Linked DNA regions of Homo sapiens. The protein of the gene in region 1 purifies or fractionates together with the protein of each later gene. This does not show direct contact. Each region holds a gene or a part of one and is shown on either strand. Other genes may lie near its edges.

Region 1 (7,022 bases):
CTTCCCTCAGGAGCCTGTTGACCAGGGAGGACCTTAGTGTGCCCTCCTGCATTTGCCTGTAACCCAGGAGCTTGGGGAGTGGGCATCATAGCCTAAAGAACCTAGGGTCTGGATCCTGGCCATGTCCTGTCACACGTGGGTTGGGTGACCTTGGGCAAGTCTCCACTGAATTAGGCCTCAGCTTCTTCAAATAGAAATGAGGAGGTCACGCTCACATCGAGCTCCCTGTGAGCATTCCCTACTGCTGTTAGGTTTGGAGACTTTTTGGTCTGTTCTTAAGATCTCATTTCCCCTGGTAAAGAGGCTGAGAACAGTGGGATCGGCTCTGGGCTTAGGTCAGTTTCTTTTTTGGAGGTAGAGTGGGGTGGGGAGGTGTGAGGTGGGATGAAAGTACAGTTACAAGAAGCATAGCCAGCCTTGAAGGGCTTTTGCCTAATTGGATGTCAGAACACCCCTTAGACTTTTTTTTTCTTTTAGAGACAGGGTCTTATTCTGTCACTCAGGCTGGAGAATGCAATGGTGCAATCTCAGCTCACTGCAGCCTCAACCTCCTGGGCTCAAGCATTCCTCCCACCGCAGCCTCTAGAGTAGCTGGGACTACAGGCCAGCTACCCCAGCTAATTTTTTGTATTTTTTTGTAGAGACAGGGTTCCACCATGTTGCCCAGGCTGATCTTGAACTCCTGGGCTCAAGTAATCCTTCTGCCTCAGCCTCCCAAAGTGGTGGGATTACAGGCATGGGCCACCATGTCCGGCCCCCTCAGACTTCTTAAGATCCTCAGGTAACAGTGAGGCCACCCATTCAGCCTCCTCAGCATCTGGCGTTTGGTACCAAATCCAGGCATCCTTGCAGGAAGCTGGAGCTGCTCCAAGTTCAGAGCTAGGAGACCCTTAAAGACAGAGATGCAAGGAACTAATCAATAGTGAACAACAAACCCCACCACACCCGCCAGCCAAGCTGGCAGAGCCTTTCATAGCCATCGAGGTGGGAAGACCAGTGAGGCAGATTCAGAAGGAGGAATGCTTCAACCTAGTACCTCAGCTTCCCACCATCTCATTCAGTCCTCAGGCCTCACAGGGCAAAAGGCCAGAGGCCTTAGAGTTCAGCTTCAGATGGTGTACCTGTCTGCCCCAGAAGCAGAGAAGTGATCCAGGGTTCACAGAGTTATAGCAAGGAAGATGATTTCTGCTGGTAGCAGCTTTAAGACAAACCTACCATCAGAGAGCAGTTATTAAAAATCTGTCTGCATTTGGGACCTTCTCAGGCTGTTTCTAAAGCAAGTCATGCCTGAGAGGGGCCCTGCCCTTTAAAAACTCCCAGCCTTTAAAAAGGTTTCCAAATGGTAACAGTCTCAAATCAGTGCTCTTCTCTTTTTTGCCAATTCCAGTCTGCAGGCTGTTTGCACAGATTGTTGGCAACTCTGGGTTGCTCTTCTTTGCAGCTTCCTAGGGCTGGGCAAGACAGAACCCAGAGAGACGTGAATTCTTATGCTTTATTCTTTATTTCTAGAGGTATAGGTTCGTGTTAGGGCCTTGAATATAAATTCTACTCCTGATGTTGCCTGAATGAAAAATGATACCTAGAAGTTTTCAGCCAATGAGTTTGGACATTAGAGGAGGAAGCATGTTAGTTCCTTCTGGAGAGCCACAAACAGACGCATTGGGCAAGGAACCACGTGCTGAGCACCATTTGCATGCTGAGTTTTAGACTTTGTAGGACACACACACACACACACACACACAGATATCTACCTCCTACTAGGGAACAGAATAGAACCTTGCTTCTCTCCACTTGGAGAAAAGTCGCTGTGGATGGTGTGTGCCAACAGGTCCTCTCCAAAGGCTTATGTGGGGTCAGTGAGGCCATGGTTTTGGAGTCTGGGATTCACCACCCTGTCCTGGGGAAACAAAGTTTGCCATAAAACAACAGAAAAAGATCGAGCCATCATAAAGGCAAGAAAGAGCCAACCCAGACATTTGTGCCACAGCTCTCCTAGAGGGAGTGGGCTGGCATCCTTGCTGGACACAGTGAAGGAGGCTGTTTATGTTGTGGTACTGGGAGGACCGGGGGACTGTGCCGTGTGGAACGTGTAGCTGTTGAGAGGTGGACTCTGTTACCATTGAGGATGTTTGGAGGATGAGTATGTGTGGCAGAGGCACACATAAACAGGCAGAGACCCTTTGCCCCTGCCTTTCTCCCCCAACCCAAGGCTGACCTGTGTTCTCCCAGGTCTGGGATTCTAAGTGACCTGCTCTGTGTTTGGTCTCTCTCAGGATGAGCACAAGCCTGGGAGATGGCAGTGATGGAAATGGCCTGCCCAGGTGCCCCTGGCTCAGCAGTGGGGCAGCAGAAGGAACTCCCCAAAGCCAAGGAGAAGACGCCGCCACTGGGGAAGAAACAGAGCTCCGTCTACAAGCTTGAGGCCGTGGAGAAGAGCCCTGTGTTCTGCGGAAAGTGGGAGATCCTGAATGACGTGATTACCAAGGGCACAGCCAAGGAAGGCTCCGAGGCAGGGCCAGCTGCCATCTCTATCATCGCCCAGGCTGAGTGTAGGGGCCTAGGGTTGTTGTGGGCACGGGGCAGGTGGGTGGGCCTGCAGGTGGGTAGCTGGGCCCAGGGGTTCCCTATGGAGGAGAGAGGTCTGTGTCACTGCTAGATAAGATTCTCATGAGACACAACCAGAGGTCTGTGCCGAGAATCATGGAAAGTGGGGTTGTAAAAGTGCACAGATGGTGGATGTGGCAAGGGGAGACTGTGCCCATCGTGACTGGAGCAGGGGAAGAGAGGTAACAGACGAGCACTCGGGACTCTGCAGAATCATCAAGCAGGCCATCAACCTTCTGCTGTGACCTTGAGCAGCCCCAGTGTCTGGAGAGGCTCCAGACAGGAAAGGCCAGGTCTCCTGGAAAGCCCCACTGGGGCCTGTAGGGCCTTCACCATCTTCCACCTAGAGGTGGCCCCACCCCCAGGAATGAGCACCGTGCTCTTGAGCCTGCTGGGCCAGTCCTGGGGCGGCAGGCTGCTGCAGGGTGAGACCTAGTCTGGTCCTTTCTTCTTCTACTCATGATACCTTATGATGACTAGTAATGGTGGCTTCCCTTGGAGACAGAAACTCCCACGAGGCCTGGGTAGGGCCGGGAGTCCTCTCTCTCCAACGCCTTCCCTCAACCCGGGAGGCTTCTTGGGGTGGAACCTGGAGAGCTGGACAGCCATGCTGTCATTTCTCCACACGCATACATCCTGCCCTCGTCTCCCACTTCCTCCTGGTTGGTTTTTGAGGAGAGATGAGAGAATAAAAACTAAAATACAGAGAGTGACATAATAATTGTTTTAAAAAAATACACATATATCCACACTTATATGTACACACATATATAAATACCTAATAGCTGTTTTTCCTATGAGCCAGGCACTGTGTTGAGCATTTTCTGTAGATCATCTCACTTCAGCTTCATAGGAAGTGAGGCGGGCGCCCTGTGATCCCCATAATATAGGCTTGGCTATTTCAGAGCAGGTGGCTGAGGCCGTGGTCTGCTCTTGACCAGTAAGCTGAGAAGCTGGGGAGAGACAGTGCGGGAAGGAGGCATTGGTGGGGAGGTGACTGCCAGACAGGGGTTGTCTGGAAAGGAGGGGAAGGAGAGGCGCCAGAGGGGATCTCTGTAAAATGTCTCTCCCCTAAGTGCTAAATTCCTATTTTTTCTCCTCTCTGCTAATCCAACTCCTTTTGCTTTAGGTGAGAATAGCCAAGAGTTCAGCCCCACCTTTTCAGAACGCATTTTCATCGCTGGGTCCAAACAGTACAGGTAAGCAGGGGAGACAAGCCTGAGTGGGAAGGTGGGGACTGGACCCAGCGCCCTCGTCCCCAGCACTTGCCTGGGCCGCTCCTGCTGACCCCGGGCTCCCTCCCTCAGCACCTGTGGTTCAGCTCCTGGAACTCACCCAGGCTTTCCTGGCTGAGCCGCTCTCTCAGCCAAATAAGCTTTTCAAAGGCTTTTCACAGCTTGTGGCTGACTGCCTCTGGGCCACATCAACTTGACATTTTATTTTTATTCTCCTCAGAGTCCTTAATGCACCCCCTCGTTTCCCATCAACAGGGAGGGTGCTGGGAACAGAAGCTGCTTCCCACTCTTGCGTGACCGTGAGCGCAGGCCGGGTTGGTGGGGGGGGCCTTCCACTGTCCTCTATGGGAGAAACCTGCTGGTGCCTTTTCTCCTGGGAGATGCACCGAGTAGGGATGCGGGCGGTAGAAAAGGAGGGGACAGATAGACTTGGTGGCCCGGTAGAAAGGAAGCCAGGGTGGGGCTGAGTCTGTTCCCAGGCTCTGCATTCCCCCACAGATGATTTTTTGAAACAAGAGTTCAAGTGCTGGGCACAATGGCTCTCACCTATAATCCCAGCACTTTCTGAGGCCGAGGCAGGTGGATCACGAGGTCAGGAGATCGAGACCATCCTGGCCAACATGGTGAAACCCCGTCTCTGCTAAAAATACAAAAATTCCCTGGGCATGGTAGCGCATGCCTGTAACCTCAGCTACTCAGGAGGCTGAGGCAGGAGAATCGCTTGAATCCAGGAGTCGAAGGTTGCAGTGAGCCGAGATTGTGCCACTGCACTCCAGCCTGGTGACAGAGTAAGATTCTGTCTCAAAAAAAAAAAAAAAAACAAGAGTTCAAGCTAGAAACAGCTCCTTCCCCTATCACCAGGCAGGTTTTGTATCATTGGAGTTTGGAACCTGCTAGTGATAAGATTGTGGGGAGGGCAGCTGGCTGCCTTGGAACCAAGAAATGCTCAGTTTGGTGGGATTCCTTCTGCTGTCCTGGGTGCCTTTTGGCCCAGGGTAGGAGCCTCTGATAGACACACTTCTTTCAGCTGTCCAAGAGAAGCCTGTAGGCCTCCAGTGGTCCCCAGGACTGCCATGAGTCTGCCTTCTCCATGGGGGCAGAAGATGAGGCCAAGGGAGGGTGGCTGAGGCCATGATCTGCTCCACAGCTGTTCTGCAGCAACCCATCTGTTGCCGGGTCCTTTAATACTTGGCAGGGATCCCAGTCCAGTTAGAGCCATGGCAGTGATGAGCCCCGAGGCCAGCAGAGAAGGGCAGGCTCCCCAGTACCAGGCAGCAGCCCAGGCTGTTCACCTTCAACAGCAGCCAGGGACCCCCAGGAACTGTGAGAATGGAGGTGACCAGCCTTACCTGTTCCTCCATCCGGAGGCAACAGAAACAAGCTCTGCTCAGTCAGAGCTGAGAGGCCTGCCATGAGCGTGGCCCCCTCCTAGGAACTCTCCAGGGGCAGCTCACCTTGGAGAGCAGTGAGCGAACCGTGTCTGCTCCCCTGACTCTCCCCAAGAAGTGCTGAGTCTGTACCCCATCACCATAGTAACAAGCACAGCTTCTCGGCAGCTTGCCTTGGGGCCAGACACTGAGCTGGGCTTTTTAAATGAACTAAATTATTGAAACTTCATTTCCACCCTGTATGGCAGAAAATACCAAACCCATTTTATAAGTGAGATAAGTGAGAAAACAGGTTCCTTGGGATTTAGAAACCTTGCCGCATTCACACAAGGAATGGCAACCTGGGATTTGACCTTGGATCTGCAGGAGTCCAGATACAAGTGTCTGGACCAGTCCATCTTCCTGCTTCCTCGTGCTCAATATGCAAATCTGTCCCTTTTGTGACAGCCAGTCCGAGAGTCTTGATCAGATCCCCAACAATGTGGCCCATGCTACAGAGGGCAAAATGGCCCGTGTGTGTTGGAAGGGAAAGCGTCGCAGCAAAGCCCGGAAGAAACGGAAGAAGAAGAGCTCAAAGTCCCTGGCTCATGCAGGAGTGGCCTTGGCCAAACCCCTCCCCAGGACCCCTGAGCAGGAGAGCTGCACCATCCCAGTGCAGGTGAGACCCTCCACCCACTGCCCAGACCCCAGGTTCATGGGGCCTTGAAATTGGAGCCTGTCCCTGGGCCCTGGCCCTCTGTGCTGATAGCTGTGTTTCCCCCCGCAGGAGGATGAGTCTCCACTCGGCGCCCCATATGTTAGAAACACCCCGCAGTTCACCAAGCCTCTGAAGGAACCAGGCCTTGGGCAACTCTGTTTTAAGCAGCTTGGCGAGGGCCTACGGCCGGCTCTGCCTCGATCAGAACTCCACAAACTGATCAGCCCCTTGCAATGTCTGAACCACGTGTGGAAACTGCACCACCCCCAGGACGGAGGCCCCCTGCCCCTGCCCACGCACCCCTTCCCCTATAGCAGACTGCCTCATCCCTTCCCATTCCACCCTCTCCAGCCCTGGAAACCTCACCCTCTGGAGTCCTTCCTGGGCAAACTGGCCTGTGTAGACAGCCAGAAACCCTTGCCTGACCCACACCTGAGCAAACTGGCCTGTGTAGACAGTCCAAAGCCCCTGCCTGGCCCACACCTGGAGCCCAGCTGCCTGTCTCGTGGTGCCCATGAGAAGTTTTCTGTGGAGGAATACCTAGTGCATGCTCTGCAAGGCAGCGTGAGCTCAGGCCAGGCCCACAGCCTGACCAGCCTGGCCAAGACCTGGGCAGCAAGGGGCTCCAGATCCCGGGAGCCCAGCCCCAAAACTGAGGACAACGAGGGTGTCCTGCTCACTGAGGTAACTAATCCCCCGGCACCTGTATATGTCCCTCTACCAGCAACCTGGGGGATGCTTTTCTCTCTTTATCAGAGTCACTCTTGCCTGTGGTGACAAATCAAACAGTAGGACAGTGCTCATTGTGGATGAAAAGTATCATCTCTTATTCCGCCAATCTCACTTCTCACAGCCTTTTTAGCGTCTTCTGTTCTGAGTTCTTCTGGTTGGTCACCTCCTGCTTGCTGAATGTGGGCACTGCATTAATAGTACACATGCTGAGGACAAGGGGAATCAGCCAGGAGCCACTGGAGATGTTATCATGGCCCCCAGAGACGGAAGATGAGGATGGGACCTGTTTTCACCACCCACCTCCTTCCCTTTTTCCTCTTGTTAACTTCCCAAATAATTTTATAACTTTAAATGATTTTATCAAAC
Region 2 (7,224 bases), on another chromosome or scaffold:
ATAGAAAGAAGTAGACATAGGAGACTCCATTTTGTTCTGTACTAAGAAAAATTCTTCTGCCTTGAGATTCTGTTAATCTATGACCTTACCCCCAACCCCGTGCTCTCTGAAACATGTGCTGTGTCAAACTCAGGGTTAAATGGATTAAGGGTTGTGCAAGGTGTGCTTTGTTAAACAGATGCTTGAAGGCAGCATGCTCGTTAAGAGTCATCACCACTCCCTAATCTCAAGTACCCAGGGACACAAACACTGCGGAAGGCCGCAGGGACCTCTGTCTAGGAAAGCCAGGTATTGTCCAAGGTTTCTCCCCATGTGATAGTCTGAAATATGGCCTCGTGGGAAGGGAAAGACCTGACCGTCCCCCAGCCCGACACCCGTAAAGGGTCTGTGCTGAGGAGGATTAGTATAAGAGGAAGGAATGCCTCTTGCAGTTGAGACAAGAGGAAGGCATCTGTCTCCTGCCCGTCCCTGGGCAATGGAATGTCTCGGTATAAAACCCGATTGTACGTTCCATCTACTGAGATAGGGAAAAACCGCCTTAGGGCTGGAGGTGGGACATGCAGGCAGCAATACTGCTTTGTAAAGCATTGAGATGTTTATGTGTATACATATCTAAAAGCACAGCACTTAATCCTTTACCTTGTCTATGATGCAAAGACCTTTGTTTGTCTGCTGACCCTCTCCCCACTATTGTCTTGTGACCATGACACATCCCCCTCTCAGAGAAACACCCATGAATGATCAATAAATACTAAGGGAACTCAGAGGCTGGCGGGATCCTCCATATGCTGAATGCTGGTTCCTCGAGTCCTTTCTCTATACTTTGTCTCTGTGTCTTTTTCTTTTCCAAGTCTCTCATTCCACCTCACGAGAAACACCCACAGGTGTGGAGGGGCAACCCACCCCTTCAATTTTTTGAGACGGGGTTTCACCATGTTGCCAAGGCTGGTCTCGAACTCCTGGGCTCAAGTGATCCACCAGCCTTGGCTTCCTGAAGTGCTGAAATTACAGGTGTGAGTCACCATGCCCGGCCTTAGTCCATTTTAATTTAAGGTTAGGAATCTGACTTACCAGAGAAACGTAGTAGACAACATATCTGGATTTCAGCAAATTGTTTGGCAGAATCTTATGATATTTGTTTGAGAGGCCCACAGTAAGGTGGAAAGGGCTGCTTTGTTTTATATAAACTTAGGGGAGAAAGCTTCATCCTGGAGTCAACAGATTGGGTTTGAATCCTGGCTCTGTCCCTTTCTAGCTGTGTGTTTGGTTGTTACTCCACCTCTCTGAGCCTTAATTTCTTCATCAGTAAAAGTAATATTCACCTCCTAGGGTTGTTGGGAGGGAGAATAAGAACTTCTAAAGTACCCGAACCTAGCAACTAGGACACTATATTTGCAGGCAAGATGAAGAGGGGTGGGGAAGTAATAGGAAACAGCCCAAATCGAGAGCCATAATAGTCTCTCTTTACTTAGTGCCAGTGCAGGCCTGTGATTCTGTTCTTAAAAACGTCTGGGGCAAGCTGCAGGAAAGACCCGAGATAGTTTATGTTCTACCATAAGCCTAAGGGAGGAGGACTCCAGGCAGGGAGATTACTCATGGCACCTGCTAAGGAGAAACGCTACTGACCAGAGAGAGGTCCAGTCATGTACTCCGTGCTTGGTGAATTTCTGTCCTGACCTCGCTGCCTCTAGAAGTGTTCAGGTGGAAATTGGAAGGTCTATAAGAGGCAATTCGGCAGCATACAGTGGCTCACGTCTGTAATCCAAAATCCAAGCATTTTGGAAGGCCAAAGTAGGAGGATCACTTAAGCCCAGGAGTTTAAGACCAGCCTAGGCAACGCAGTGAGATCCATCTCCACTAAAAATTTTAAAATTTGCCAGGTATGGTGGTGTGCACCTGTAGCCCCAGCTACTCAGGAGAGTCAGAGAATCGGCGCACCCCGGAGTTCGAGGTTGCAGTGAGCCATGATCACGCCACTGTACTCCAGCCTGGGTGACAGAGCAAGACACTGTCTCAAAAACATAAATAAATAAATAAATAAATAAATAGGCCGTGCGCAGTGGCTCACGACTGTAATTCCAACATTTTAGAAGGCGGAGGCCAGCGGATCACCTGAGGTCAGGAGTTCGGGACCAGCCTGACCAACGTGGTGAAACCCCCAACTCTACTAAAAATACATAAATTAGGCGGGCGTGGTGGTGGCCGCCTGTAATCCCAGCTACTCGGTAGGCTGCAGCAGGAGAATGGTTTGAACCCGGGAGGCAGAGGTTGCAGTGAGCCAAAATCCCCTCACTGCATTCCAGCCTGAGACTAAAAAAAAGAGGCGATTTCCCACATCGGTGGAAATTTGAGCTGTTTAAACTCTGGATGCCTTTTTCAGTTCTAATATTCCAGATCTCCTTGGTGGATAAACACTTCATTTCCCTTCTCCTGAGCAGAGCTCCTGAGCCCTGGCCCGCTGGGAACCTGTCACTTCTAAAAAAGTTCGAGGTCCGGACTGTCTCTCCCGGAGCCTTGAGGCTGATGAGACGGAGCGAGAGAGGGGCCGGGGCCGAATGGAGTCTACTCGCGGGCCCAGGGAGGCCGCCAGAGGGCGCCCGGGACCGACCGCAAGAATAACTTCCTTCCTCTTCCGCTAACTTCCCGGCAGCGCGCCGCTCAGGGTGGGGGCCCCGAGGGCTGGGGCCGTCGGCTTCCCCCTGGGGATCCCCCGCTTCAGAGAAAGCCAAGCGTTAGGCGCAGCCAAAGCCGAGAGGCAGCGGAAGCTCCCGGCCCGGGGTGGCGCTGGGTCAGCGGGTACCTTCTCGGCGGTCCCCTGGCCGGCCGAACTCGCGCCTGGTGTCCTGTCACCCCGCTCCCCGCCCTGAGTGAGCCTGTCCCCTCTCAGGGGCGCGCCCGAGTCGCTCCGGGTTGGCTGCGCCAGTCCAGAGTTAAACTTTCAGCCAATGAAAAAGGGCGCGAGGCGTGACGCACGGAAACGTCATGGGAATTCCCCCCTCCGGGGGGCCGAGAAGGGGCTTTCCCGGCCCTGAGCCCTGCTGGCAGGCGAGGTGTCGCGACCGGTCCCAGGTGGGTCGGGCGCGGAGAGAAGCCGCAACCAGAGCCGCCGCCACGGTGAGTGGCTGGATTCAGACCCCTGGGTGGCCGGGACAAGAGAAAAGAGGGAGGAGGGCCTTTAGCGGACAGCGCCTGGGGCTGGAGAGCAGCAGCTGCACACAGCCGGAAAGGGCGCGCAGGCGACGACACTCGGATCCACGTCGACACCGTTGTACAAAGATACGCGGACCCGTACGTACACCTGTACCTGTGCTGGCGCACACACGGCAGCGTCCGTGCAGTCGCACTCGCACACACATGCACACGGAGACGTGCCCACCGGTGCACTGGTGCCTGCACCCACACCCTTCACGCACAAACTCAAGATACGCTCACCCGTGTCCGTACATCAAGACAGGCGCTGACACACACCCACACTGAGAAGCTCGGGATTCACCTATCTACACACATGCTCGCTTGCACACTCATGTTGACGCCATGGACACACAACATGCAACCAAGCACTACAGCCGAAACACACTTGTGGAGCTGTGATGGAGACACACTCTTGTATTAGGTGGGGGGGGGGGGGGGGGAGCGTGCAGAGATCTCCCTGTCGCCTGCGCGCCCAGAACCGGTGCGGTGTGGGACCAGCTGCTGTTGTGAGGTTTGGGAGAGAGAGAAAAGAGCCCACTCCGAGGAGGAGACACTTTTCCCGCAGCCCCAGAATCGCGTTCTCGGGGCAGAACCCCGGGGCCTCCCACAGGAAAGAGCCCCCGCCTACAGGCTGTTCGAAGGGGAGGCCGTCCGACAGCAGGAATGTCCCCCCAAAAGCCCCCGGGGTTTATCAGCCGTGGCCTCCCTCCTGGCAGAAAATCCCAAGGTTGCTCCAGACCGGGGGAGGGGAGCGGGAGGCGGACTTGGCCCCAGACTGCCAGCCTCCTCCCGGCCGTGAAAGACCCTCCTGTTCCCTGCCCTGGAGGGAGGAGGGGGCTTAACCCCCACCGGGGCTTCCCGGATTCTCCTAGACCTCTGCCCGCTGAAAAGCAGCGGGAGCCCGTAGACTGTCGAGGGCCTCCCGCCCCTCCCGTCGCGAGGGCGGGGCCAGTGGCGTCATTTCCAGGCCCGCCCCCTCCGGCCCCGCCTCCCCTTGGTATTTTCGGGACTTTCCTAAGCTGCTCTAACTTTCCTGCCCCTTCCCCGGCCAAGCCCAACTCCGGATCTCGCTCTCCACCGGATCTCACCCGCCACACCCGGACAGGCGGCTGGAGGAGGTCGGACCCTCCCCCAAATCTGGGCCCCCATCTCCCGCCCACCCCCATTTAGATCTGACCCCCTCCCCCACGCCACTCCTCCCAACTTTAGGCGGGCGTCTAAAATTCTGGGAAGCAGAACCTGGCCGGAGCCACTAGACAGAGCCGGGCCTAGCCCAGAGACATGGAGAGTTGCTACAACCCAGTGAGTCATGCCGCCTGCCCCTGACCCGGCCGGCTGCCCCTCGTGTCTGTCCACCTGTCTGCCCGAGCCCCCTCTGCTGCCTTACACCTGTATGCTCGCAGATGCTCTCAGCCTGCCAGTCTGTCCATCTGTCTGCAACTCTGCCTCCAAAAGGAGCTTTCTCTTGGGTCTGAGGAGGAGGGGGGAGTGACCACTGAAGACTTGGAGATGGGAGGTGGGGCTGTGGGGGGTGCTGAGAGTCGGATGCCACCCCCAGTCTGTCTCCAAACCAGGGTCTGGATGGTATTATTGAATATGATGATTTCAAATTGAACTCCTCCATTGTGGAACCCAAGGAGCCAGCCCCAGAAACAGGTCAGCAAGTTCACTAACCTCCCCTAGTCCTAAAGCGGGGGAGGGAGAGCATGTGCCCTCTCTCTGGGGGAGGGGCTGGGAGATCGTGGCTCAGCAAGGTCTCTCTGTCCCCAGCTGATGGCCCCTACCTGGTGATCGTGGAACAGCCTAAGCAGGTGAGTGAGCAAAAGGGAGGGTGTGGAATGGCTTCAGCTTTGGGGACAAATGGGGTAGTGGTAGCTGGCTGGCCATGGAGGAGCCATTGCCGAAGGAGGCCACAGGGGATTGGATGGTCACTGCTGCTGATCAGAGTGCTGTAGTTTGGTTCAGGGCTACTACCAGGCACTGCGGTCACTGCTGGCCTGGGTGGTCTTCCCTGATCACAATGCTACTATGCCCTTGGACCTTCAGAGAGGCTTCCGATTTCGATATGGCTGTGAAGGCCCCTCCCATGGAGGACTGCCCGGTGCCTCCAGTGAGAAGGGCCGAAAGACCTATCCCACTGTCAAGGTGAGCCAGGATGGTGCTGGAGGGTGGGCTAAGTGGACAGCATGCCCAAGGCCCTGACTGACAGTCCCTGCCTCTCCTAGATCTGTAACTACGAGGGACCAGCCAAGATCGAGGTGGACCTGGTAACACACAGTGACCCACCTCGTGCTCATGCCCACAGTCTGGTGGGCAAGCAATGCTCGGAGCTGGGGATCTGCGCCGTTTCTGTGGGGCCCAAGGACATGACTGCCCAGTAGGTGCCCTCTACGCCTGGCCCCCACTGGTATGCCCGTCTGCCAGTCCCAGGCCCCAGCCCACCTCCATGAGCTTAGCATCTGACCAAGGGGAAAGATGTAGGTTGGCCCCAAACCCAAGGGCCTAAGTAGAAACTCCAATGGCTTCCTTGAGGAAGTAAGGCTGAGCTGAGCCCTGGCAATGGGAAAGGTGCCTCAGGAAGAAAGAACTGCATGGCCAAAGGCCTCCGATTCTCTCTTCTCAGATTTAACAACCTGGGTGTCCTGCATGTGACTAAGAAGAACATGATGGGGACTATGATACAAAAACTTCAGAGGCAGCGGCTCCGCTCTAGGCCCCAGGGCCTTACGGGTATGGGTGCAGGGGGTGGGTCGGGTATGGGTGCAGGGGGTGGGTGGGTCATGGGAGGTGCTCATGGAAGGAGCAGGGAGGGAGAAGCCCAGGGGTCACACATGTACCTACTGCCCAGAGGCCGAGCAGCGGGAGCTGGAGCAAGAGGCCAAAGAACTGAAGAAGGTGATGGATCTGAGTATAGTGCGGCTGCGCTTCTCTGCCTTCCTTAGAGCCAGTGATGGCTCCTTCTCCCTGCCCCTGAAGCCAGTCATCTCCCAGCCCATCCATGACAGCAGTGAGTATCCTGATTGCCTGGGGTGCCAGGCCTGGTGGCAGAGGTGGCATGAGGGGTGACCTCAAGCTGTGCAGTCAAACAGACCCAGGTTTCAGAACCTGGCCCTGCCACATATGAGCTGAGTGATCCTGAGCAAGTCATTTCCCCCCCGAAGCTTCTGTCTTTAGTAAATGTGTATATTGGGTGTTTCCTGCAGCTCCAGGGGTTGCTGAGATAAGGAATACAAAGCCCCCAGCTTCTTAAATGTGGCCTTGGCTATTGCATCATCTCAACTAATCCATATCCCACTCCATAGAATCTCCGGGGGCATCAAACCTGAAGATTTCTCGAATGGACAAGACAGCAGGCTCTGTGCGGGGTGGAGATGAAGTTTATCTGCTTTGTGACAAGGTGCAGAAAGGTGAGACTGGAGCCCACTTTGGGCACCAAGGACATCGAGTATAAGACTGGGGCCAGGGAAGCTCTAGGGTAAATGGCCCCAGAGATTCCACCGGGAGCTGTGGCCAAGCTTCCGTTTTCCTTGTAGATGACATTGAGGTTCGGTTCTATGAGGATGATGAGAATGGATGGCAGGCCTTTGGGGACTTCTCTCCCACAGATGTGCATAAACAGGTACCCAGGGCTAGGGCCCGGGCCCGGGCTGGGGGCTAAATTAGGCTAAGGACTCACTGACACCCTGTGTCTCCCTGCACCCCCCAGTATGCCATTGTGTTCCGGACACCCCCCTATCACAAGATGAAGATTGAGCGGCCTGTAACAGTGTTTCTGCAACTGAAACGCAAGCGAGGAGGGGACGTGTCTGATTCCAAACAGTTCACCTATTACCCTCTGGTGGAAGGTGGAGCTGGGCTGAGGACCTCAGGGTGCTGGCGGGGGGCCAGGCTGGGCTAGAAGAAGGTCCCAAGAGCTAGATGTGGGGATGCATGAGCCAAGTCAGAAGTGCGAGGGTCCCAGGAGGTGCTTCCTAGGAGCCGGCCCTGAGGGCTCTTCTGGGAAGGGCCCCTGAGGCATGACACAATAACTGG
Region 3 (7,355 bases), on another chromosome or scaffold:
AGCCTAGCCTGTTACAAGGGTGGGACACGAGCCGTTTATCCATTTATCGGCCCCGTGTTAGAGGAATTCTGGAAACGTGTACTGGCAGTTAATTCTTGATCGCCGTTTGTTCTTTTCTTGGCTTTTCTTTCTGGAGTTCTAATGTTTCTTTCTCTTCTGCAGATATGCACCCAATGTCCAGGGAGCGTGCAAAATTTGTCAAAAGTGGCCTTTTATTGTAAAACGACACGAGAGCTAATGCTGCATGCCCGTTGCTGCCTGAATCAGAAGGGCACCATCTTGGGGTGAGGGGAAGACATCCCTAGATGCTGGATACAGGCCATTCCTTAGCCTGGCTGCTTTTATACCCTTATATTATTTAAAGAATCCACCTATTATGGTTTCAGCTGTAATCATCACGCAGATGTCTACCAAAACTAGATCTCTTTAGTGTCTTTTTTAACCTTTCCACACTCCAGGTACATACGGGTACCTCTAGCTTCCTATTAAGCATTTCCTACTGAGTGCACCCTAACTTCAAACTCAAAATGTTATGTTTTGCTTCCATTCTCTTCTTTCCTTCATCTACCTAAATACTTCTCTGTATTAAGCTTTTAGAAAACCAACATTTTCCATTATCACTCTCTTGCTTTAATACTATATTTAGTATTAAATTTTGTCTCAGGACAAAATTCAAACCATTAAGTACCATACTAGTCCCAACCCACTTTTCCAACATTATTTCCAATTACTTGTCCGCTCAAACCTCCATAATGGTCTGCACCAGCCAGATTTGCCTGCCCTCAAAGGCATTCCACCTTTGTTCAGGCCTCTCTCCATACCTGAAATTGCCTTCCTCTACCAAATTAGGAAATATCCATCCTTCAATTCCAACATCTTTTGTGAATATTTACTACTACTAAGTTCCAGAGTAATACCTTTTTTAAATTATTATTTATTTATTTTTTTGAGACGGAGTTTCACTCTTGTTGCCCAGGCTGGAATGCAATGGCATGATCTCGGCTCACCGCGCCCTCCACCTCCTGGGTTCAAGCGATTCAGTAATACCTTTTTTAAAAACTTCCTGTAATCTTTAGTGTCCACTCAAATATATTTATACACTGTCCTGTGGTTTCTTTTATATTGTAATTTAATGTTTACAGTGCTTTTATTTTTGGGCAGTGCTCTTGTTCCTCTAACTACATTGTAAGCCACTCAAAGGCCAAAATACTGTGTTACATATTTTTAACATTCTCCCAGTGTTTGCAGTTTGTAGGGACTCAGTAAATATTTGTAGAATAAAGGAATGGATAGCAGTAGATATTGAAGAAAAAAATAACGTGGCATGATCCTTAATGTCCAGCAGTTTACAACCAATCTGTGGTAGAAAATACATGTGGAAAAAAACTTTGATTTATGTGACTTTTTTTTTTTAATTTAAAGGCCCTCTGTGGATCTGAAAATCATAATATGAGATTCACTAATGTAGACAAGAAACACAGATTTCTCCCAATAGATGCATAACCGATTAGAACAGTGCTGGCGGATAGAACTTTCTGTGATTATGAAAATGTTCCGAGCCAGGCGCGGTGGCTCATGCCTGTAATCCCAGCACTTTGGGAGGCCCAGATGGGCGGATCACGAGGTCAGGAGTTCAAGACCAGCCTGACCAACATGGTGAAACCCCGTCTCTACTAAAAATACAAAAATTAGCCAGGCGTGGTGGCATGTGCCTATAATCTCAGCTACTCAGGAGGCTGAGGCAGGAGAATTGCTTGAACCCGGGAGATGGAGGTTGCAGTGAGCCGAGATCGTGCCACTGCACTCCAGCTTGGGCAACAGAGTAAGACTGTCTCAAAAAAGGAAAATGTTCCGTATCTGTACTAACCAGTACAGTAGCTACTAACGTGGTTATTCCATTTGCACTTGAAATACGGCTAGTGCAAATGAGACACTGAATTTTTAGGTTAAATTAATTTTCTTCTATAGAGTCAGGGTCTCATTCATATTGCCCAGGCTGGTCTTGAATTCCTAGGTTCAAGTGATCCTCCCCCGCTTGGCCTCCTAAAGTGCTGGGATTACAGGAGTGAGTCACTACACCCAGCCTAAGGTACATTAATTTAAATTTAAGTAGTTACATGTGGCAAGTGGCGATTCTATTGGATAATGCAGAATTAAAATGTCTACCACAGCTCCTAGTGTGTGACTCTGAACACAGCTGTGTTCAATTATTAGCTGAAAAGGGGGTTGTGTAGTCAAATACAAACTGTGCCGTGGCTGAAGAAAAAGAGGAACACACAGTTATATTGATTACTTTATTTCCTCAGGCTGGATCTCCAGAACTGTTCTCTGGAGGACCCTGGTCCAAACTTTCATCAGGCACATACCACTGTCATCATGTAAGTAGTTAGGTACCTCCCACCCAAAAGGCTAATATAATGTAGGTTGATGCGAAAGTGCTAACATTGTGTACTTTGCAGAGACCTGCAAGCAAACCCCCTCAAAGGTGACTTGGCCAACACCTTCCGTGGCTTTACTCAGCTCCAGACTCTGTGAGTAAGGGTATGGGAAGAGAATCAAAGAGGGATGATGCTGTGAGTTTAGCAACTTTGCATGTTATGACCACATTTCTCTATAGGATACTGCCACAACATGTCAACTGTCCTGGAGGAATTAATGCCTGGAATACTATCACCTCTTATATAGACAACCAAATCTGTCAAGGGCAAAAGAACCTTTGCAATAACACTGGGGACCCAGGTATGCTGTCTTACCTCCAAACTTCTGGGAATTGTCTTTTCTCCCTTGTATTTTCCACTTTAGATCAGAAAGACAAAGTTGCTTAAGCGCCTTTCATTCAGAGTTCTGGGGCTATAACCCCTTTGAAAGAAAAGATCTTAAGATATACTCTATTATTTGTCTCACGTGTGTCCGTGTAAAGAGACCACCAAACAGGCTTTGTGTGAGCAACAAGGCTGTTTATTTCACCTGGGTGCAGGTGGGCTGAGTCCAAAAAGAGAGTCAGCAAAGGGTGGTGGGATTATCATTAGTTCTTACAGGTTTTGGGGTAGGCAGTGGAGTTAGGAGTGCTGTTTTGCGGGCAGGGGATGGATCTTACAAAGTACATTCTCAAGGGTGGGGAGAATTACAAAGAACCTTCTTAAGCGTGGGAGAGATTACAAGGAAACTTCTTAAGGGTAAGGGAGATTACAAAGTATATTGATCAGTTAGGGTGGGGCAGAAACAAATCACAATGGTGGAATGTCATCAGTTAAGGCTATTTTCATTTCTTTTGTGGATCTTCAGTTGCTTCAGACCATCTGGATGTATACGTGCAGGTCACAGGGGATATGATAGCTTAGCTTGGGCTCAGAGGCCTGACATTATTGTTACTGTTTTTATCTGTAATTTTCTTTCTTCTTCCTTTATCCTAGCAATGATTGAGAGAATCTAAGTTGAAACAGATAATTGAGAAATATGCCTAATGAAATGGATAAAGTGATGTTCTCTATTTCTCTCTGGCCTCCAGAAATGTGTCCTGAGAATGGATCTTGTGTACCTGATGGTCCAGGTCTTTTGCAGTGTGTTTGTGCTGATGGTTTCCATGGATACAAGTGTATGCGCCAGGTGAGGAATTAGGCCGTCTAACTAGGGATACAAGGAATGCATAGAGCAAGTCTTCTCAGAAAGGAGAGCCACAAGACCAGGAGCTGATACAAATTTCCTATAGGTGGAAAACTATAGAATTGCCCTAGACAAAGTGATAGGTATATTAGGAAAGAACTAGGTGTTAGGATGTGGCCCTCCGTGTAACGTTGTATGGGGGTGTTTTTTGGTCTGTTGTTCACAGGGCTCGTTCTCACTGCTTATGTTCTTCGGGATTCTGGGAGCCACCACTCTATCCGTCTCCATTCTGCTTTGGGCGACCCAGCGCCGAAAAGCCAAGACTTCATGAACTACATAGGTCTTACCATTGACCTAAGATCAATCTGAACTATCTTAGCCCAGTCAGGGAGCTCTGCTTCCTAGAAAGGCATCTTTCGCCAGTGGATTCGCCTCAAGGTTGAGGCCGCCATTGGAAGATGAAAAATTGCACTCCCTTGGTGTAGACAAATACCAGTTCCCATTGGTGTTGTTGCCTATAATAAACACTTTTTTCTTTTTTTTTCCTCTCTTTCTTTTTAAGGAAAGGCGCCCTGCCTTTACGTGTTTCTTGCTTGGGGTGGGAGGGACTGCTTTAGGGCAGCCGGTTTTTTCAGGTTTCCCCCGGTTTTGCAGTGCGGAGACCACGGGGGCCCACTCCCCGTGGCTCCGCGGACCCCGCCCCTTACGTGCCCGGCCCCGCCCCTCACGCCGCCTGTGTCCGCGCCGCCGCAGTCTCTGCTGCTGCCGCCAAGCGCGCCCGAGGCTCCTACGCTGCCGCGCCCGGCTTCTCTCCAGCGCCCCGCGCCGTTAGCCACGTGGACCGACTCCGGCGCGCCGTCCTCACGTGGTTCCAGTGGAGTTTGCAGTCCTTCCCGCTTCTCCGTACTCGCCCCCGCCTCTGAGCTCCCTTCCCATGGCGGCCCTAGTGTTGGAGGACGGGTCGGTCCTGCGGGGCCAGCCCTTTGGGGCCGCCGTGTCGACTGCCGGGGAAGTGGGTAAGCAAGCCCGGTTAGGCTGCAGACCTTATCCCACTCTGTGATGCGCCTCTCCTCCCAACCTTCCCCGTCCAGACCCCGCCATTTTCCCGCCAGCGTACCCCCTTCCCCCATTCGGTGCCCATGGGCCCCAGCGCCATAAACCCCTCGCGACCAAGGCAGCCTCCACTGGGGCGTGCTCATCGCGCGGGGAGTGTTCCGAAGGGTGCCCTACCGGAGCCCAGCCCTGCTTCTTTCTTGCAGTGTTTCAAACCGGCATGGTCGGCTACCCCGAGGCCCTCACTGATCCCTCCTACAAGGCACAGATCTTAGTGCTCACCTATCCTCTGATCGGCAACTATGGCATCCCCCCAGATGAAATGGATGAGTTCGGTCTCTGCAAGGTAGCCACACCCAGTGCTTTCTCTACATTCCTTTTCAAGTCAGTAATTGTTAACTATTAGTGAAGTAGGAGACGTTGACACCCTGCTGGGCATCCTGCAGAAAACATACCCACTGAAGTAGTAAAGTCAAGGACTAAGATCACTAGTAACTGTAGTTAGGGGTTGTTAAGTGCCTTGGGAGGCACAGAGTGTTGGAGGCCTCAGGAAAAAGCTACCGCCTTTGTTAAGGGCATCAAGGCTCCAGGTATAGCTGAAAGCATTCTGTATGTAGTGAAGGCATGGATCAAGGAAAAGTAAAAGAGGTGTAAGGGAACAGCCTTGTCCAACTTGTTAGGCATGCAGAAGTCAGGAGAAAAAAGCCTGCAGATAAGTTAAATCCGGTGGGCATGGAGGGACCTGAAGCCAAAGCAGAGTCAGCTTAGTTTGGTAAAGGATCCATTGAAGGTTTTTTTTTAGCAGCAGAGTCAGATGGGAGCAGTGCTTTTTAGGACTACATAAATTAGTGGAAAGAGACTGGAAACTAGGGTCACATACTTCTCTGTGACAGTGAGTGCCAGTTTACCTACAAAACCAGTGACATTATCTTCTAGACCTACTGACATGGCCTCGTCTGATTCTCTGCTTTTCAGTTGTGTTCTTACCTCTAGGTGAGAAAACTGAGTTTCTTCCTACAGTGAGGTTTCCCCTATTCCTTCACCTCTGAAATTTGGAAACTAAGTTGCCCTCTGACAGTTCAAGCATTAAAAAAAACCCAACATATAGTAATTAAGGTAATAGAGGAAGTCAATCTGGCCTAGAGTAGTATCTCTCAAAATTTGTTTGGCCTCACTGCAGGTGTAAGCCTTTAATTCTTAATTTGCCTTCCCAGCCACCCTGACGCTGGGGAGAGTGAGCTCCGGATAAAGGACGTACATGTTGTTCTTCCTGGAAAAGAATTTCTAGGTTCATCACAAACCTACAAATACACTGCATTCTAGTTGATAGTGAATTCTTGTGAATTTGGTTAACCTTTGTCAGTCATCACCTTTGTCAACTCTAGACACACTGACTAAATTGAGTTTATAAAACTACAAAATTGAGGCCTGATTAGGATCAGGGTGGGAAAGGCCTCTTGGAGCCACTCGCACATATAAATGGATTACTCCACCTGGCCAGGGAGGGTTCTGCCAAACTATCCTTCAGATCCCTGGACAGTCTCAGAATGCAGGTTCCTTAAACTGTTCATCACCCAGCTGAATGCAGTTTAAATATGCTGATCCCTCCCACATAAACTTTCTGTTTCTATGTAGCTATTAAACGCTTATCTATTGAGTAACAAGTTTATGGTTTTTGTTTTTTTTTTGGGGACAAGGTCTCACTTTGTCACCCAGGCTGGAGTGCAGTGGCATAATCATGGCTCACTTGCAGCCTCTGCCACCTGAGCTCAAGTAGTCCTCCCACCTCAACCCCCCAAGTAGCTGGGACTACAGGCACCTGCCGCCATGCCTGGCTACTTTTTTTGTATTTTTTGTAGAGACCGGGTATTGTCACATTGCCCAGGCTTGTATGTTATCTTTTTTTATTTAATTTTTTTTTATTTTTATTTTGCTTTGAGGTAGAGTTTCTTTCTTGTTGCTCAGGTTGGAGTGCAATGGGCAACCTTGGCTCACTGCAACCTCCGCCTCCCGGGTTCAAGCTATTCTCCCACCTCAGCCTCCCGAGTAGCTGGGATTACAGGCATGGGCTACCATTCCCAGCTAATTTTGTATTTTTAGTAGAGACAGGGTTTCTCCATGTTGGTCAGGCTGGTTTTGAACTCCCGATCACAGGTGATCTGCCCACCTCGGCCTCCCAAAGCGCTGGGATTACAGGCGTGAGCCACCGCGCCTGGCCTTTTCTTTTTTAAATAATCCCAAATGAAGTTTGGGAGGCATGCTTAGTATTGTGCCCTGAACCTTTGTTTTTTATTTGGTAATGGGGTATTTTGTACCTCCCTATCTTACTCAGTTTTTAATCACACTCTATAATTAATATTTATATGGGTGTTACCTTGTTTTCTAGCTCCCTAAGTCAGAAATAAACATCATGAAGACAGGAACCTCATCTTTTTTTGCTCATTGCTCTTTTCTCAGCATCTTTTGCAATGCCTGCACCTCAATAAATGTCTGACTGACACCATGTGCCTTGCTCTTGAGTTCTCTGTTTCGTGACAAAGACACAAATACATATTCATCATATGACGTAAATAGCAAGAGAGGAAATAAAGTATTAAAACAGCTCTAAGATGGAGGCACAAGCTGTATTGGGTGAGTGGGAGGGGCTTCACAGAGAAAGGATTTGTGATTTCAGTTTTAGATAAAGGAAGAAAGAGGCG
Region 4 (7,022 bases), on another chromosome or scaffold:
GAGACCAGCCTAGCCAACCCCGTCTCCACTAAAAGTCCAAAAATTAGCCCAGTGTGGTAGTGTACTCCTGTAGCCCCAGCTATTTGGGTGGATGGAACAGAAGAATTGCTAGAACCTAGGAAGCAGAGGTCACAGTGAGCCAACGTTGCGCCAGTGCATTCTCCATCCTGGGTTACAGAGCAAGACCCTGTCTCAAAAAAAGAAAAAAAAAAAGAATGGTTTTCAACACGTCCACTGCCCGAGTGGAATTATATATAGTCAGAGGTGGGTTTTTTGTGTTTTTTTTGAGGGTTTTTTTTTTCTTTTGACACGGAGTCTCACTTTGTCACCCAGGCTAGAGTGCAGTGACGCAATCTTGACTCACTGCAACCTCAGGCTCCCAAGTAGCTGGGATTATAGGCACCTGCAACCACGCCCAGCTAATTTTTGTGTTTTTAGTAGAGATGGGGTTTCACTATGTTGGCCAACCTGGTCTTGAACTCCTGACCTCAGGTGATCCACCCATCTTGACCTCCCAAAGTGCTGGGATTACAGGTGTGAGCCACTGCGCCTGGTCAAGAGGTAGTTTTTAAATTCATAAAATGGGCTGGGCTGGGTGCAGTGGCTCATACCTGTAATCCCAGCACTTCAGGAGGCCAAGGTGGAGGGTTGCTTGAGCCCAGGAGTTGGAGACCAGCCTGGGCAACGTAGCAAGACCCTGTCTCTACAAAAAATATAAAAATTAGCTGGGTGTGCTGGTATGCACCTGTAGTCCCAGCTACTTGGGAGGCTGAGGCAGGAGGATGGCTTGAGCCTAGAAGGTTGAGGCTACAGTGAGCCATGATCATACTATTGCATTCCAGCCTGGGTGGCAAGCAAGATCCTCTCTCAAAAAAAAAAAGGGACTGGATTACAGTTTTGATTAAAATATGCTTGAAGTTAATAACCTATTCTGGCTTACTGAACACAAAAATAAGTAAAATACATAGTGTACCAGGTGTTGTGTAACAGGAAGAGTGCTTTTCAAGGAACAAAGAAAGTGTCTTTGATAATGAGTGACTTCAAAGCTGATTTCTTAATCTGTGGTCTTGGCTCGTTCTAGTGCCCACCAGAAGTATGTCCGACAAGCCTGGCAGAAGGCAGACATCAATACAAAATGGGCAGCCACACGATGGGCCAAGAAGATTGAAGCCAGAGAAAGGGTAATAACTTAGGGTCATTTGAATTCTGGTCCTTTCTTTTTTTGGAGGGTTCAAGATAGTGTGAGAGGGATAATTTTTATTTGTTGTTTTTTTTTTAACAGAAAGCCAAGATGACAGATTTTGATCGTTTTAAAGTTATGAAGGCAAAGAAAATGGTAAGATTTAAGATCTGTATTTTTGTGTAACTTAGCTTTAAATAATAAGGGAGCAGTAGCCAAATCCCATTTCAGGCTGCCAGCTTCTTGGAAGCTTTCTGTAAAAAAGGAGAATTTATCTTCATTTGTATTTCATGATGTCCCTATGGAATTGTTACCTTTCTTCAGATGTAGTTGTAGGGAAACAGACTACTTAATGCCCTTTCTAAAACCAGCATAAATTGGATTTTATTGTATGTATACACAATAAGTGCTTTCTTACATTGATAATTTTCAGAGGAACAGAATAATCAAGAATGAAGTTAAGAAGCTTCAAAAGGCAGCTCTCCTGAAAGCTTCTCCCAAAAAAGCACCTGGTACTAAGGGTACTGCTGCTGCTGCTGCTGCTGCTGCTGCTGCTAAAGTTCCAGCAAAAAAGATCACCGCCGCGAGTAAAAAGGCTCCAGCCCAGAAGGTTCCTGCCCAGAAAGCCACAGGCCAGAAAGCAGCGCCTGCTCCAAAAGCTCAGAAGGGTCAAAAAGCTCCAGCCCAGAAAGCACCTGCTCCAAAGGCATCTGGCAAGAAAGCATAAGTGGCAATCATAAAAAGTAATAAAGGTTCTTTTTGACCTGTTGACAAATGTATTTAAGCCTTTGGATTTAAAGCCTGTTGAGGCTGGAGTTAGGAGGCAGATTGATAGTAGGATTATAATAAACATTAAATAATCAGTTCCTTTTTTTTTTTTTTTTTTTTTGAGATGGAGTCTCGTTCTGTTGCTCAGGCCGGACTGCAGTGGCGCTATCTCGGCTCACTGTAAGTTCCACCTCCCGGGTTCATGCCATTCTCCTGCCTCAGCCTCCTGAGCAGCTGGGACTACAGGTGCCCGCCACCGCGCCTGGCTAATTTTTTGTATTTTTAGTAGAGACGGGGTTTCACCGTGTTAGCCAGGATGGTCTCGCTCTCCTGACCTCGTGATCCGCCCGCCTCGGCCTCCCAAAGTGCTAGGATTGCAGGCATGAGCCGCCGCGCCTGGCCTAAATAATCAGTTCTTTAATCTCACTCTCTGCCCATACTTGGATAGGTAGTGCAAAATCATTGCAGTCATAATTGATCATGTCATGAGAAATCATGATAACTTAGAACACCAAGTGACACAAGTGACATTTTTTTCTTATGGTCACCTTGGCTTCAGAACATCTTTTTTCCTTGTACAAATATGTTTGCCATAAATAGGTAAAGTGACAGCCTCTTGATGCTCAAGAGTCTAGCAGATTTATTTTATTTATTTATTTTTTTTTTTTGGAGACAGAGTCTTGCTGTGTTGCCCAGGCTGGAGTGCAGTGGTGCGATCTCAGCTCCCTCCACCTTCCGGGTTCAAGTGATTCTCCTGCCTTGGCTTCCCAGGTAGCTGGGACTACAGGCGCCCACCACCATGCCCAGCTAATTTTTTTTGTAGAGACTGGGTTTCACTATGTTGGCCAGGCTGGTTTTGAACTCCTGACCTCGTGATCCGCCTGTCTCGGCCTCCCAGAGCGGGGGATTATAGGCATGGGCCACTGCACTTGGCCTTTTTTTGTTTTTTTGAGACAGAGTCTTGATCTTATCACCCAGGCTGGAGTGCAGTGGCACGATCTTGGCTCAGCGCAACCTCTGCCTCCTGGGCTCAAGCGGTTCTCCTGCTCAGCCTTCTGAGTAGTTGGGACTATAGGTGTGTGCCACCACGTCTGGCTAGTTTTTGTATTTTTAGTGGAGATGGGGTTTCACCATGTTGGCCATGCTGGTCTCGAGCTCCTGACCTCAGGTGATACACCCGCCTTGGCCTCCCAAAGTGCTGGAATTACAGGTGTGAGCCACTGTGCCCGGCCTGCAAATTTTCTTATAAAAAGTAAACTAGGAAAATAGGGCAAGTATAAAAATTGCAGGTTGAGCATATTTCTAATCCAAAAAGCTCTAACCTCTGAAACTGAGCTATGACACTACAATTTAAAAATCCCTAGCCTACCCGCATGGTGGGTTATGGTCAAAATACAGGTACACAGCACTATTCAGTGTCCCTGAGGAAGAAATAGTTAACCTTCAGGGTACATGTATATGAAGCATAAATGAATTTCCTGTATAGACCTAGGTCCCATCCCCAAAGTGTCATGTATATGCACTTAACTCCAACATCAGAACACATCTCGTCCTAAGTGTTTCAGATAAGAGATACTTATCCTGTGTATAGTAGGTTGGACTTCTGTTTCTCTCTACCACAAGATACAGGTAATTTGGGGCAGTAAAAGATCCTGGATAGATTTAAAAATACTACAAAGCTGTACATGAAACAGGATTACTTTTTTTTTTTTTTTTGAGACAGAGCCTTACTCTTGCCCAGGCTGGAATGTAGTGGCACGATCTCAGCTCACTGCGACCTCCACCTCCCAGGTTCAAGTTGTTCTGCCTCAGCCTCCCAAGTAGCAGGGGTTAAATGCGTGTACCACCATGCCCCTCTAATATTGTATTAGAGATGGGGTTTTGCCATGTCAGCCAGACTGGTCTTGAACTCCTGACCTCAGGTGATCTGTCCGCCTTGGCCTCCCAAAGTGCTGGGATTACAGGCGTGAGCCACCGCTTCTGGCCAGGAATACATTTTAAATAAATTTGTTTCCTAACCAAAAGCTAGCTTCAGGCGTCACTGGGGTAAAGGAAAAAGCACATTGATTTGCTTGATAATAGGCAAGTGGTATGGTGTAATAAGGAAAATATGGATGATTTCGGATTACCTGTTCTACTCTGGGAGGTAGAGAATTGTCTAGAGAAAGTGGCATCTATACCTAAAATAAGAAGAAGGTGGTGTAAGGGGAAGAATGACACGAGATAGGAAATAAACGAACTGATAGTGTAGAGGACTGGCTCGGGACCACATCAAGGAAGTAGGTTAGTGGTTAGATCGTGTAGGGGAACACGGGAAGCTACTGAGGGTTTTTTAAAATGGCGTGATATCTCAGATTTAGATCATTGAACTGTTAAGACTGAATCTTATGGGATCAAGACTGGGAATGCTCGGGTTGGCAGTATGAAGTTTGGCAGTAATCCAAGGAAGTGACAGTGGTAATGCCATTTAGGTGGTCTTGATCATGCATTGGACTGCAGAAATAAGGGAGAAAACAATGTGTCAGGGTTTCTGGTTTGTACCTCTGGTTCATTGGTTGTGAGGGAACATGAGGCAGGGTAAAGTTTATCTAGGTAAAATGAGTTAGTTTTCATGTAGACTATCTGGGTGTATATGCAAAGACTGCAGACAATCTATACTAAAATCCTGGCTCTGCCTCTTGAAAGCTATGTAGTTTAGGCACATAGTCAAAATCCAGTTTCCTCATCTATGTGGTACGCTTCAGAGTAGTTAATCATGATATGTAGTCCAGTGACTGGTTCCCTTGGTAAGAGCTGTGATAATGACACAAGGAGGAGAGGTTTCAGGACAGACTTGGGATTCATGAATATGTAAGTGGTCACTGATTCCCCAGGGGTAGGATGACAACAATCAAGAGACGAATAGAGGTTGGAAAGGAGTCATGAGGGGTGGGAAACTAGCAGGGGCACATGGAAGCTAGGGAAAGAATTTTGCTTGAGATCGTCAAAGTGAGGGGAAGAGGGTAGTAAGCAAAGGAGAAATGTTATATGGGGTTCGGAGGTTTTGTGTTTGTAAATCTGGAGTGATGGGCATGTTCAAATGCTTCTGGGAAAGGAGCTAATAGGAGAGAAACTTAGCCCTTCGAAAAACAGGAAGGGATGGATCCTAGGGGAGAGGAGGAAGGATTGGCTTTAGAGGAAAGATGTCCTTTACGTGAGGAAAAGGAAGAAAAGGTGGGTTTAGATACTAAATCTGTAGGTTTGCTGTTAGGAAATTAAGGACTTTTCACCTTTATCTCTGAAATTTCTCTGGAGTTAGCAAGGCAAGGTCATACACTGAGAAGGAGGGATGAGGCAGTGTAGATTTGCAGACATACAGGTTGTAATTCCTTATGGAGGAAAGGGGAGAGCACTTTTGTCAGACTGCCTGTGGCTTTGAGAGCCCTTTGGCTACAGTCCATGAGGTGCTCAGAGGATGAGAAAGCTTCAGGGTAGAAGCAGTATTCAAGCTGCACCTAGAAAACAGTGCAATACAGAACAGTGGAAATTGGAAATTCCAATCTTGGAATCTCTAGGAAAGTAACTGAGGCATACGATGCCTGAAAAGGAGTAGAAAATAAAATTAATAAGGTGGGACCATATGATAAGAGATTTGAGGCCGGGCACTGTGGCTCACACCTGTAATCCCAGCACTATGGGAGGCTGAGGCAGGCGGATCACCTGAGGTCAGGGGTCCGAGACCAGCTTGGCCAACATGGTGAAACCCCGTCTTTACTAAAAATACAAAAATTAGACAGGCATGGTGGAGCATGCCTGTAATCCCAGCTACTTGGGAGGCTGAGGCGGGAGAATCGCTTGAACCCAGGAGGTGGAGGTTGCAGTGAGCTGACATTACGCCATAGCACTCCAGCTTGGGCGACAGAGGGAGACTCTGTCTCAAAAAAAAGACTTGAGCAAGGGCGTAATCTTCAGGAAGGTCAGTCTGGTAGCATAGTGTGGATTGGGTTGGGGGATGGGGAAGGAGAGCAGAAAATTATTGAAATATCCAGGTGCATAAAAGTCTACTTTGATTATGGAGAACTACACACTTGTTCAGTCACCCTCATTGGAGACGGGGGATGGCATACGAAAAGAATGCTGATTTCAGGCTGGGCACGGTGGCTCATGCCTTTAATCCCAGCACTTTGGGAGGCTGAGGCAGGTGAATCAGGGGTTCAAGACCAGCCTGGCCAATGTGGTGAAACCCTGTCTCTACTAAAAATCAAAAAAAAAAAAAAAAAAATGGCTGATTTCAGAGTCATATTCAGGTTTAAATTCTGTCATTCAGCCCAAACTCATTACTTTATGTTACTTATGGGAACCTCATCTAAAAAGCAAGGATCCTGATACCTGCCTCATATTGTGGCAAGGATCAAATGAGTCAAATAAGATGCTTGTGAAAGTGAGGACAGGATCTATCCTCAACACCTAGTGCAATTCTTTTTACACATTAGGTACTTAGTAATTTGGGTTGAATTGTGTTGAACTAACCTGGCGGTATAGGCAAAATTTGGAAGTTTGGTTTTCAGAAAGTCTTGACTTCCTCTTATCTCTAAGTAATTGGCATGTCCTCTAATTCATATTTTCCCCCCTCATCTGTTGGGTGAAATACTGTTTATCCTTTAGTACTAAAATTAAAAGTTACCTCATTCTTCTAGCTAGCTGATTTTTTTTTTTAATCTAGGCTAAATCATGAATACATTTACATTTAAATAAAATATTACAGTTGAAAGTAAAGGGTCCTTTCATTATCTCCACTTCCAATTCCAGTACCCTGTGTAAAGGAAAACATATACATCTTGCAGACATTTTTTAATGTGTTTGTAATATAGGTACATAAAAATATATGTGCTTGTTTTAAGCAAATTTCATACTCTGCAACTTGCCTTTTTTCTTAATACGTTCTGGAGATCTTATCTAGTCAGCCTCTAAATTAGAGTTCTTCAGAAAACCAATGGGATGGATGAATGGACTCAAGAGATTGTGGAAACCAAGAAGTCCCACAAAATACCATCTGCAAGCTGGAGAACCAGGAAAGCTGATTGGGATAATTCAA

What was found.
Region 2: the proteins of MAP3K14 (region 1) and NFKB2 purify together in Homo sapiens (affinity purification with mass spectrometry; 6 studies listed by BioGRID and IntAct, with this or other methods). This does not show direct contact.
Region 3: the proteins of MAP3K14 (region 1) and CAD purify together in Homo sapiens (affinity purification with mass spectrometry; 3 studies listed by BioGRID and IntAct, with this or other methods). This does not show direct contact.
Region 4: the proteins of MAP3K14 (region 1) and RPL14 purify together in Homo sapiens (affinity purification with mass spectrometry; 2 studies listed by BioGRID and IntAct, with this or other methods). This does not show direct contact.

The regions. Positions count from the first base shown.
Region 1 is NC_000017.11:45,286,017-45,293,038, reverse strand, and holds part of MAP3K14 (mitogen-activated protein kinase kinase kinase 14), read left to right. Parts: intron 1-2,273; 5' UTR 2,274-2,293; coding exon 2,294-2,549; intron 2,550-3,733; coding exon 3,734-3,803; intron 3,804-5,674; coding exon 5,675-5,885; intron 5,886-5,993; coding exon 5,994-6,608; intron 6,609-7,022.
Region 2 is NC_000010.11:102,391,487-102,398,710, forward strand, and holds the start of NFKB2 (nuclear factor NF-kappa-B p100 subunit), read left to right. Parts: upstream 1-4,218; 5' UTR 4,219-4,310; exon of another isoform or gene 4,311-4,401; 5' UTR 4,402-4,473; coding exon 4,474-4,494; intron 4,495-4,766; coding exon 4,767-4,848; intron 4,849-4,962; coding exon 4,963-5,003; intron 5,004-5,238; coding exon 5,239-5,337; intron 5,338-5,417; coding exon 5,418-5,569; intron 5,570-5,815; coding exon 5,816-5,922; intron 5,923-6,040; coding exon 6,041-6,199; intron 6,200-6,494; coding exon 6,495-6,599; intron 6,600-6,725; coding exon 6,726-6,811; intron 6,812-6,898; coding exon 6,899-7,037; intron 7,038-7,224. UniProt on the Homo sapiens protein: NF-kappa-B is a pleiotropic transcription factor present in almost all cell types and is the endpoint of a series of signal transduction events that are initiated by a vast array of stimuli related to many biological processes such as inflammation, immunity, differentiation, cell growth, tumorigenesis and apoptosis.
Region 3 is NC_000002.12:27,213,015-27,220,369, forward strand, and holds the start of CAD (multifunctional protein CAD), read left to right. Parts: upstream 1-4,354; 5' UTR 4,355-4,537; coding exon 4,538-4,619; intron 4,620-4,862; coding exon 4,863-5,002; intron 5,003-7,355. Other genes in the region: ATRAID (all-trans retinoic acid-induced differentiation factor isoform c precursor), read left to right, coding at 163-284, 2,307-2,378, 2,460-2,531, 2,618-2,739, 3,509-3,606, 3,830-3,934. UniProt on the Homo sapiens protein: Multifunctional protein that encodes the first 3 enzymatic activities of the de novo pyrimidine pathway: carbamoylphosphate synthetase (CPSase; EC 6.3.5.5), aspartate transcarbamylase (ATCase; EC 2.1.3.2) and dihydroorotase (DHOase; EC 3.5.2.3).
Region 4 is NC_000003.12:40,460,326-40,467,347, forward strand, and holds part of RPL14 (large ribosomal subunit protein eL14), read left to right. Parts: intron 1-1,081; coding exon 1,082-1,181; intron 1,182-1,282; coding exon 1,283-1,336; intron 1,337-1,613; coding exon 1,614-1,907; 3' UTR 1,908-7,022. UniProt on the Homo sapiens protein: Component of the large ribosomal subunit. The ribosome is a large ribonucleoprotein complex responsible for the synthesis of proteins in the cell.